Regions from separate parts of the Homo sapiens genome. Here region 2 is linked to region 1. Evidence: fine-mapped expression QTL. A gene starts in region 1. The other region holds a variant in brackets. All regions are shown on one strand. Distances are from middle to middle.

Evidence for each region. PIP is the estimated chance that this variant, and not a neighbour inherited with it, causes the effect.
Region 2: its variant is fine-mapped to the expression of ZNF45-AS1 in substantia nigra (GTEx, PIP 0.95).

What each region holds. Positions count from the first base shown.
Region 1 is chr19:43,899,126-43,903,521 of GRCh38, reverse strand. ZNF45-AS1 (ZNF45 antisense RNA 1) reads right to left here and starts at 1,656. Exons shown (of 3, transcript NR_184050.1): 1 at 1,378-1,656. It overlaps LOC100505715 (a long non-coding RNA gene), which reads left to right and starts at 1,719. Exons shown (of 3, transcript NR_038334.1): 1 at 1,719-2,485; 2 at 2,568-2,654. RefSeq lists an enhancer at 1,716-1,785.
Region 2 is chr19:43,802,827-43,807,222 of GRCh38, reverse strand. It overlaps a transcript of LYPD5 not described here. Among named protein-coding and RNA genes, the nearest start is that of LYPD5, 2.6 kb to the right of the region's middle. The variant A/G (reference allele first, on the strand shown) is at 2,726.

The sequences.
Region 1 (4,396 bases):
GGTGTTTTGACTAGAGCATGGCAGTAATTGTCTAAAAGTTTTCCTTCTTGCTAGGCTGCCCTCTTCCTTGTCTTTTGGCTAAAGACAGCAGGCTTTTGCTGGGACTTTTTTGTCTGTGCCCATTGGTGTATTGGGACTGCTAGCTTCTTTGGCTTTAAGTCTGGCACAAAGGAGGCACAAAGAAAATCAAGGGAACTCAGCACCAGTCTACCTTTTCTCTACCACTCAGTGTTCTTTTTCTCTTTTTTTATAACTAATGCCCAGGGTTTTTATTGTACTTAGCTGGACAAATAGAAAAAAGTACATCTATTCCATCTTCCTGGAGGTCCCTTCTCAATTTTCTTTTTCTTTTTTTGTAGGGGGAGACAGAATCTCACACTTTCTCCCAGGCTGGAGTGCAGTGGCACGATCTCGGCTCACTGCAACCTCCACCTCCTGGATTCAAGCGATTCTCCTGCCTCGGCCTCCCAAGTAGCTGGGACTACAGGCACGGGCCCCCACACCTGGCTAATTTTTGTATTTTTACTAGAGACGGGGTTTTGCCATGTTGGCCAGGCTGGTCTCGACCTCCTGACCTCAAGTGATCCACCCACCTCAGCCCCCCAAAGTGCTGGGATTACAGGCATGAGCCACCACGCCCAGCCTTTTCACAATGTTTAAAATACCAATTTTCCTGAAAAGTACCCATATATTGAGTGCAATTCCAATAAAAATGGCAATGCCACAAACATCCCCATTCATGTATTTTGGTGAATATGTATACACTTACATTTGGGTTAAAGGTAAGAATGGAACTGCTAGGTTATAGCAAATGCATATATTCAAATTCAATAGATCTTGCCAAATAGTTTTCCCAAGTGATTATATCAATTTATACACTCGCCAGTAGACTACGATATTAAGTTTCTTTGACCTTAAAATTCATTTTCTTATTTTGAAAGAAAACATTTCTGTGGGCTCTCGGTACTTTGCCCATTCAGCCTAATGGATAAGTAGGCCATAGTAGTATTTACCTTGGACAAATCAGCCAGACTCGTATTTTAAGTGAGAGAATGGCAATTGGGCATGAGAAATTTCAGAGTGGGAGTAGGAGTGAAGGGAGAGGGCTTAAAAAATTTACATAATCTCAAAATCTGAAACAAACCATTTCATGTCCAAAGTAACACACTTAGAAACAAACCATAATCCGGAATACAACCCCATCCATGTTCTCACACAATGAATTTCACAATGTCACAGAGTGAAAACACAAAACGCACAGGCATTCTTTCTCTAAAACCAATGCACACTTAACGCCTTCTGTGCTCCTGGAGCTACTATAGGTGCTGGCGCTACCTGGGAGCGCGAAAAACAAAAGCCCCTGTCCTCAGCTCGCACCTAGAATACCAACCGTGGACCATACGCTGGAGCTCGCCAACTTCTCCTCTCACACGCAGGTTTGAGGCTTTGAGGTCTGCATGCCCGTGCTCTGCCTTCTCCAGCCGAGACTCAAGATTCCACTCGCCTCCTCTAAACACGCAGGACGACCTGAAATCATAGCCCTTAATAGAGCAAGTCAACCAACGGTACAGATGGTCAAGCTCTTGCTCATGTGCCCTCCGAGCATAGGCTACAGAATGGCGGGCGCCGTGGACATGGTTATTCCGGGTGGACTACATTTCCCAGAAGTCACCGCGCTAGGGTCACCCTCGAGCTCTAGATCTTTTTCCGGTGTCCGAGCTGCTGTAGCCCCTACGTGGTGAGTAGATCGTCTCCACAGAAATCAGCGGAGGCTTCCACAGTCCCTGGTTGGAATGGAACCGGCGGTGAGGATGAGAGGCGCTGAAGACCAGAAGACCCAGGGCGTGAACGGGGCGTGTCATCCCTGGAGTTTCAGTAGAATTTCAGGCCTGTCTGCTTGAGCAGCAGAGGAGGAGTTTCTGTGTGCCTGTGAGAGACTGTGTGTGTGTGTGTGTGTGTGTGTGTGTGTGAGATGAATGAACAGGGTTGTGTACGTGTGTGTGCGTTAGACAAATGAACAGTGTTGTGTACCTGTGTGAATTGTCACTGTGACTCCAGGCTCTAGGCTCTGCAGATTCCTCAGCCCTATCGCCTCACAGACACTTGGGATGTGCAGCAGGTAAAAGAGAGAAGCCAGATTCATGGAGGCGTGAAGGATCCCAGCAAGAAAACACAGACTTGATCTTGAGACGAGATTTTTGAAATTGGTTGCGGCCTCAAGGCAGGCTCTGAGAAGACTCGATAAAGAGTTCTCAGGAATAGGCATCCCTCCTGGATATTTCCCCCTTGGAAGCGCCGAGGAGCCAGCTCTATGTTTGTAACCATAGCATTTCTAAAGCTCCAGCCCCAGGAACCTGCTGTGAATTAGAGACAGATTCCACCCTAGGCATCACTGATCTTGGCCTCTCTTGTATTGGGAAGGTCAACACTGTTCCAGTTTCTCTCCTACTCCCATCTGGTTGTGCTCGGTGAAGTAGGTGAGCAGGTATGATCATTGAGGGTATTTTCTAAGTTACTGTGCTATCCAAGAAACCCCAGCTGTCTCATGATTGCCTTCTCTTTTCCAGTGCTACCCTTCTGTTAAAAAAAAAAAAAAAAAAAAGATCCTGAAAGAGGAAAGAATTTTTGCTACACATCTGAAAGCTAAAGTCCAGGTGAGTTTATATTTCCTCATTACTTGTAAGATGCTCTTTAATTTTAAAGACATGAGACCCTTTCTTCTCTTTGGAAATGTCCTGCCTAACAGTGACGTATCTGTGAATATGCCATTACAGCCTCCTTTCAAGGCCCTTAAGCCCTTCTCTTCATAATTTATTTAACCTTTTGCCTACTGCGAGCTATTATGTTTCTAATTGTTGACTAAAAACTAGTCTATAATGAACACCATTTTGCAGAGATCTTTGCTTCCTTTTATAGCCATTCCCTGAGGATAAACCCTAGTTTCAAAATTTGAGTCAAATATCAGATATTTACCATGTGCTTGTACTTGTTAGGATACAATGACAAAAAGATATAGTTGCTATCCTCAAATGACTTGGTATCCAGTAAGGAAAATGAAATCGGAATAGGGATAAGAAAGATAGTTGATGTGAAAGGCCACTAGAGAAATTCAGATGACCTGTCTTGGGAGTTCACAGGGAAGAGGCATCTTTCTGGCTATAGCAGCATTGTCAGGATATGATCGAACTGTGAGAACTCAGTGAAAGAAAATGGATCTTATACCTTAGAGTTTTTATTCTAATGATGTTAAATGCAAAGTGACATTAAATGGAACACGATGTCTTAACAGCTGCTTGTAGGACACTGTGATTAGGAGGATAGATTCAGAAGTAAAATAAACCCATCTATCAGGAATGTATAATAGGAAGCAGCTTTGAGACTACCAGTAATGCATACGAAATATCAGAGTCTCCGATTTACATTGACATACATTTCTACAGGCAAACGAATCATAGGGTGGGTTCAGGTAATGGGAACTGATGAAAATAAAGTAAAAGCTTTCAATAAAACACAGCAGCAGTTTTTAGAGCAGCGCTGGTTCTCAAATGTAGGATGCATCAGAATCACCTGCAGGGCTTGTTCAAACAGTTTGCTGGGCCCCAGCCCCAGAGTTTCTAATTCGGTAGGTCTGAGGTAGAGCAGAGAATCTGCATTGGTAACAAGTTCCCAGGGACTATATTTAGAGGACCTTTGTTCTAGAGTATACTAAGTTTTCTCCTCCAGATCAAAAGATATTTAAAAGGTAAGGCAGGGAGGATTTTTTCCCACTTGTTCAGAGAAAAGATTGCTCTGTTAAAAATTCAAAAATCTATCTAACTGTGTCTCAAGACAAAAAGATATAGTTGCTATCCTCAAATGACTTGGTATCCCAGTAAGGAAGAATAAATCAAAATAGGAATAAGTAAGATAGTTGCCTTTTTAAAAAAAGTTTTAATTTTATGAAATATACTTTTAGGAATAGGCAGAAACCCAGGACTATAAAACAAATATTAAGTAAGTTAATATATGGGTTTATGTTTTCCATACTTTTTTCAATTTATTGATGTCTGTCCGTTTTTCTCTATATATTGATAAATACATATATTTTATAAATGTAATCATATTTACATTTGCATAATTGTATACATTTGTAACTCAATTCTTTTTTTTTTTTTTTTTTTTTTTAGACGGAGTCTCGCTCCGTCACCAGGCTGGTGTGCAGTGGCGCGATCTCGGCTCACTGCAACCTCCGCTTCCCAGGTTCGAGCAATTCTCCTGCCTCAGCCTCCCGAGTAGCTGGGATTACAGGCCCATGCCACCACGCCCAGCTAATTTTTCTATTTTTAGTAGAGACGAGGTTTCACCATGTTGGTCAGGCTGGTCTCGATCTCATGACCTCATGGATCCACCCGCCTCA
Region 2 (4,396 bases), 96 kb after region 1:
TTCAAAATGATTTGATATAATAACCAAAAAAATTCAAAGCAGGGTCCCAAACAGATATTTGTACAGCCATATTCATAACAGCATTACTCACAATAGCCCAGAGGCGAAACAACCCCAGTGTCCATTGATGGAAGGATGAATGAATAAATAGAATGCGGTGTATCCACACAATGGGATATTGTTCAGCCTTTAAAAGGAAGGAAATTCTGACACATGCTACATACAACATGGTTATACCTTCGGGACATTATGCTAAGTGAAATAAGCCAGTCACTAAAGGACAAGTACTATATGACTTCACTTATATGAGTTATCTAGAGCAGCGGTCCTCAACCTTTTGAGCACCAGAGACTGATTGTGTGGAAGACAATTTTTCCATGGACCTGGGGAGTGGGGGATGGTTTCAGATGATTCAAGAGCATTACATTTATTGTGCGTTTTATTTCTATTATTATTACATTGTAATATATGATGAAATAATTATATAACTCACCATAATGTAGAATCAGTGAGAGCCCTGAGCTTGTTGGGTTTGTTTTGTTTTGTTTTGTTTTGTTTTGTTGAGACGGTGTCTTGCTGTGTCGCCCAGGCTGGACTGCAGTGGTGTGATCTCAGCTCACCACAAGCTCCGCCTTCCGTGTTCAAGGATTCTCTTGCCTCAGCCTCCTGAGTAGCTGGGATTACAGGCGTGCCCACTATGCCCAGCTAATTTTTATATTTTTAGTAGAGATGGGGTTTCACCATGTTGACCAGGCTCATCTTGAACTCCCGACCTCAAGTGATCCTCCTGCTTCAGCCTCCCAAAGTGCTAGGATTACAGATATGAGCCACCACGCTTGGCCCACTGAGCTTGTTTTCCTGCCACTAGATGGTCCCCTCTAGGGGTGATGGGAGACAGTGACAGATCATCAGGCATTATAATCTCATAAGGAATGCATAACCTAGATCCCTTGCATACGCAATTCACAATAGGATTCACGCTGCTATGAGAATCTAAGCCACTGATCTGACAGGAGACAGAGCTCAGGTGGTAGTACAAGTAATGGGGAGAGGCTGTAAATACAGATGAATCTTCCCTCCCTCACCCACCGCTCACCTCCTGCTGTGCGGCCCCGTTCCTAACAGGTACTGGTACCAGGCCCCGGGGGTTGGGGATCCCTGATCTAGAGTAGTCAAATTCACAGAAACAAAGTAGAATGATGCTTGCCAGGGGGTGTGGGGAGGAGGGATAGAAGAAAGGGGAGTTGTTTGATGGGTAAAGAGTTTCAGTTTTGCAAGATGAAAAGTTCTGGATATTGATTGTACAAAACATGAATACACTTGATACTACTGAACTGTAAAAGAAAATTAAGATCTGATTTGAAAGAAAGAGATATTGATGCTGCAGGAAGAATGCATGTGAAAACAACAAAAGAGGCCAGGTGTGGTGGTTCACGCCTGTAATCCCAGCACTTTGGGAGGCCGAGGCGGGTGGATCACCTGAGGTCAGGAGTTTGAGACCAGCCTGGCCAACATGGTGAAACCCTGTGTCTACTAAAAATACAAAAATTAGCCAGGCATGGTGGCAGGCACCTGTGATCCCAGCTACTTGGGAGGCTGAGGCAGGAGAATCACTTGAACCTGGGAGGCGGAGGTTCCAGTGAGCCAAGATGGCGCCACTGCACTCCAGCTTGGGCAACAGAGTGAGACTCGGTCTCAAAAAATAAAAATAACAAAATAACAAAAGAATATATTGGCATACAATCTGCATGATCCAATTTTTGACAAGGTCATGACTAGAGTTCCAAAAGAAAATTCACAATTCTGATAATGTGTGAAATAACATTTATGCAGAACATGAGGACTGGAAGCAAGGGATGACCCACATTACTTAGGGAATATCTTAAAACGCATTACAATTATGACTTGTTTGATTAATGGAATCATTTCCAATAAGGCAAGAAATACTAAATACTTCTCAACTATTTGGGCCACAAACCCTAGAAGGTACCCACATTTAGTAAACTGCTTATGAAAATCAAATATGAAAAAAAATTTTGAGAGGCCAGATGTTTGCAAACATGATTGGAAATGGAACCATGCGTGGAAACTGATGGAATGCAACAGAAGATCCTTGAGAACATTCTAAGGCATTCAGAATTCTAAGGCATTCAACAGACTCGTGAACACTCAGACACCAGGCAGATGAAGACAGCCAGATGGATGCTCCCAAAAGGTACAGGGAGCTGACACTTCAAAGTCTCCAAAAGTACCTGAATGATACCAGAATCAAAAGTGCACACAGCACTCACATACTCATGCATTCACCAGACTGGTCTGCCTACCCTGTAAGCCTCAATCCCTGAAACTGACAACTGCTGTGAAGACCTTCAGTGCCTCCACCTTCCACGGGGGCTTCAGAAAAACCATCCTCCTTCCTGGCCAGACTCCACTCTCCAGAGACCCCCGAGCACAACCCTGCCCCGGTCTGGATAGACCCCCACTGAGAGCCTGGGGCAGAAACTGGAGAATCAGGAAGGAAGAATAATTTGTATGCAAAACAGGTTCTGGGAAGTGAGGCCTGATGGGAAGAGGAGGGATTTGGCAAGATGACAGTAAGGGAGGACATAGTTTGGTGAGTGTCCATAGTGGCTGCTGTCAAAGAAAAATTGCACAGGCAAGGCAGACTTTATTCAAGGAGATTGCAATAGGGAAAGAGACTGAACTCAACTCCACTGAAACAAAT[A/G]TGCTAGGGTGGTTAAGCCCTAGGTGAGTTAATGGAAAAATATTGGAGGACAATGGGGGAGGTGGGTCAATGGGATGTGTCCATCACATGGAGTTATTCTGTCAATGGGATGTGTCCATCACATGGAGTTATTCCTGAGTCTGCAAATGTTTTTCTCTGTGATTGGGCCATCTGAGTTTGCTGATTGTCAATTATCAAAGTGAGGCTCCTACCCTCCCACAGAGACTGGGCGATAGGGGTGCTATCTCCCTTGATGATTTCAAAGGGATAATTCCCAGGTCCTTGAAAAAGACATTCCTGGGTTGTAACGCTGGCAAGAGACCAGGAGAAGATTTACCTACATTTCAAAGGCGCAGAGAAGGCCGGGCACAGTGGCTCACGTCTGTAATCCCAGCAATTTGGGAGGCCGAGGCGGGCAGATCACTTGAGGTCAGGAATTCAAGACCAGCCTGGCCAACATGGTGAAATTCTGTCTCTACTACAAATACAAAAATTAGCCAGGCATGGTGGCACATGCCTGTAATCCCAGCTACTCGGGAGGCTGAGGCAGAAGAATGGTGTGAACCTGGGAGGCGGAGCTTGCAGTGAGCCGAGATCACGCCACTGCACTCCAGCCTGGGCAACAGAGTGAGACGCCGTCTCAAAAAGAAAAAGAGAGGGGGTGCGGGGGGAGCAGAGAAAGAATTTGCAATTATATTTGGCCCTCTGTGTCTATGGGGTTCTGCATCCACAGGTTCTACCTCCACGCATTCAGTCAACTTTGGATAAAAAATATTTTGAAACCAAAAAACAATAAAAAAAATAGAAATAGAAAACAATACCGAGGGATGACTGTACAAGTTTTCTAAAGTAAGTGTCCTACAAAAAGCGTGATCCAGGGCCGAGAGGAAGAAACCTGTCTAAAGTTTAGTCGATCTGAGGGGACCATTAAGGCTCTTTTGGTCACCAGTGTTACGTGGACTCTGCCATCCAGATGTGGGTCTGAGACTCTGGGTGTCTGCACATGGCTGGTGCCCACTCTGTGGCTAGTATCCACTAGCCTGATCCAGCAGGCAGCATCTCCAGGCAGCAAGAAGTGAGACAAACCAGGAGGTGCTAGCCTGGGGTCTCTGCCTCAGCACCAACCACCTGCTGGGGCCTCCTCTGGACCTCCTCACCTGCTGAGTGTCTGAGCATCCACATGTGTCTGCCTGTGTCCTCGGGGGACAGTGACCCTCTGGTTGTCTGCTGTATCTCCATCTTCTTGATTTCATTCATTTAATAAATGTTTCTGAAACACCTGGGGGCATGTCGTGTCTATCGGGGTGTCCCTCTTCACCTCTAGGTTTGTCTGTGTGACTACACAGTCACATCTGTTCACAGCAGGCTGTGTCTGTCTTTCTGCATCTCATGTGTAATTGCTTCCTCGAAGGCACACTCTCTCTCTCTCTCTTCCTCTCTCTCTGTTTCTCTTTTGTGTCTGTCTCTCCCTGTATGTCTCTTGGTGCCTCTCTGTTTGTGTCTTCATTCATTGATTCATTCGTTCAGTCATACGGTATCTCAGACATTCCTGGAGGCCCCCGAAGAGTTCACAGCCCGGTAGGGGAGACAGACGCTAGCCCAGCCTAGTTTGATCAGGGCTGGGAGACAGGAAGGTGCTGGAGGCTGAGGGTGTGTGGATGAGTGGGGAGA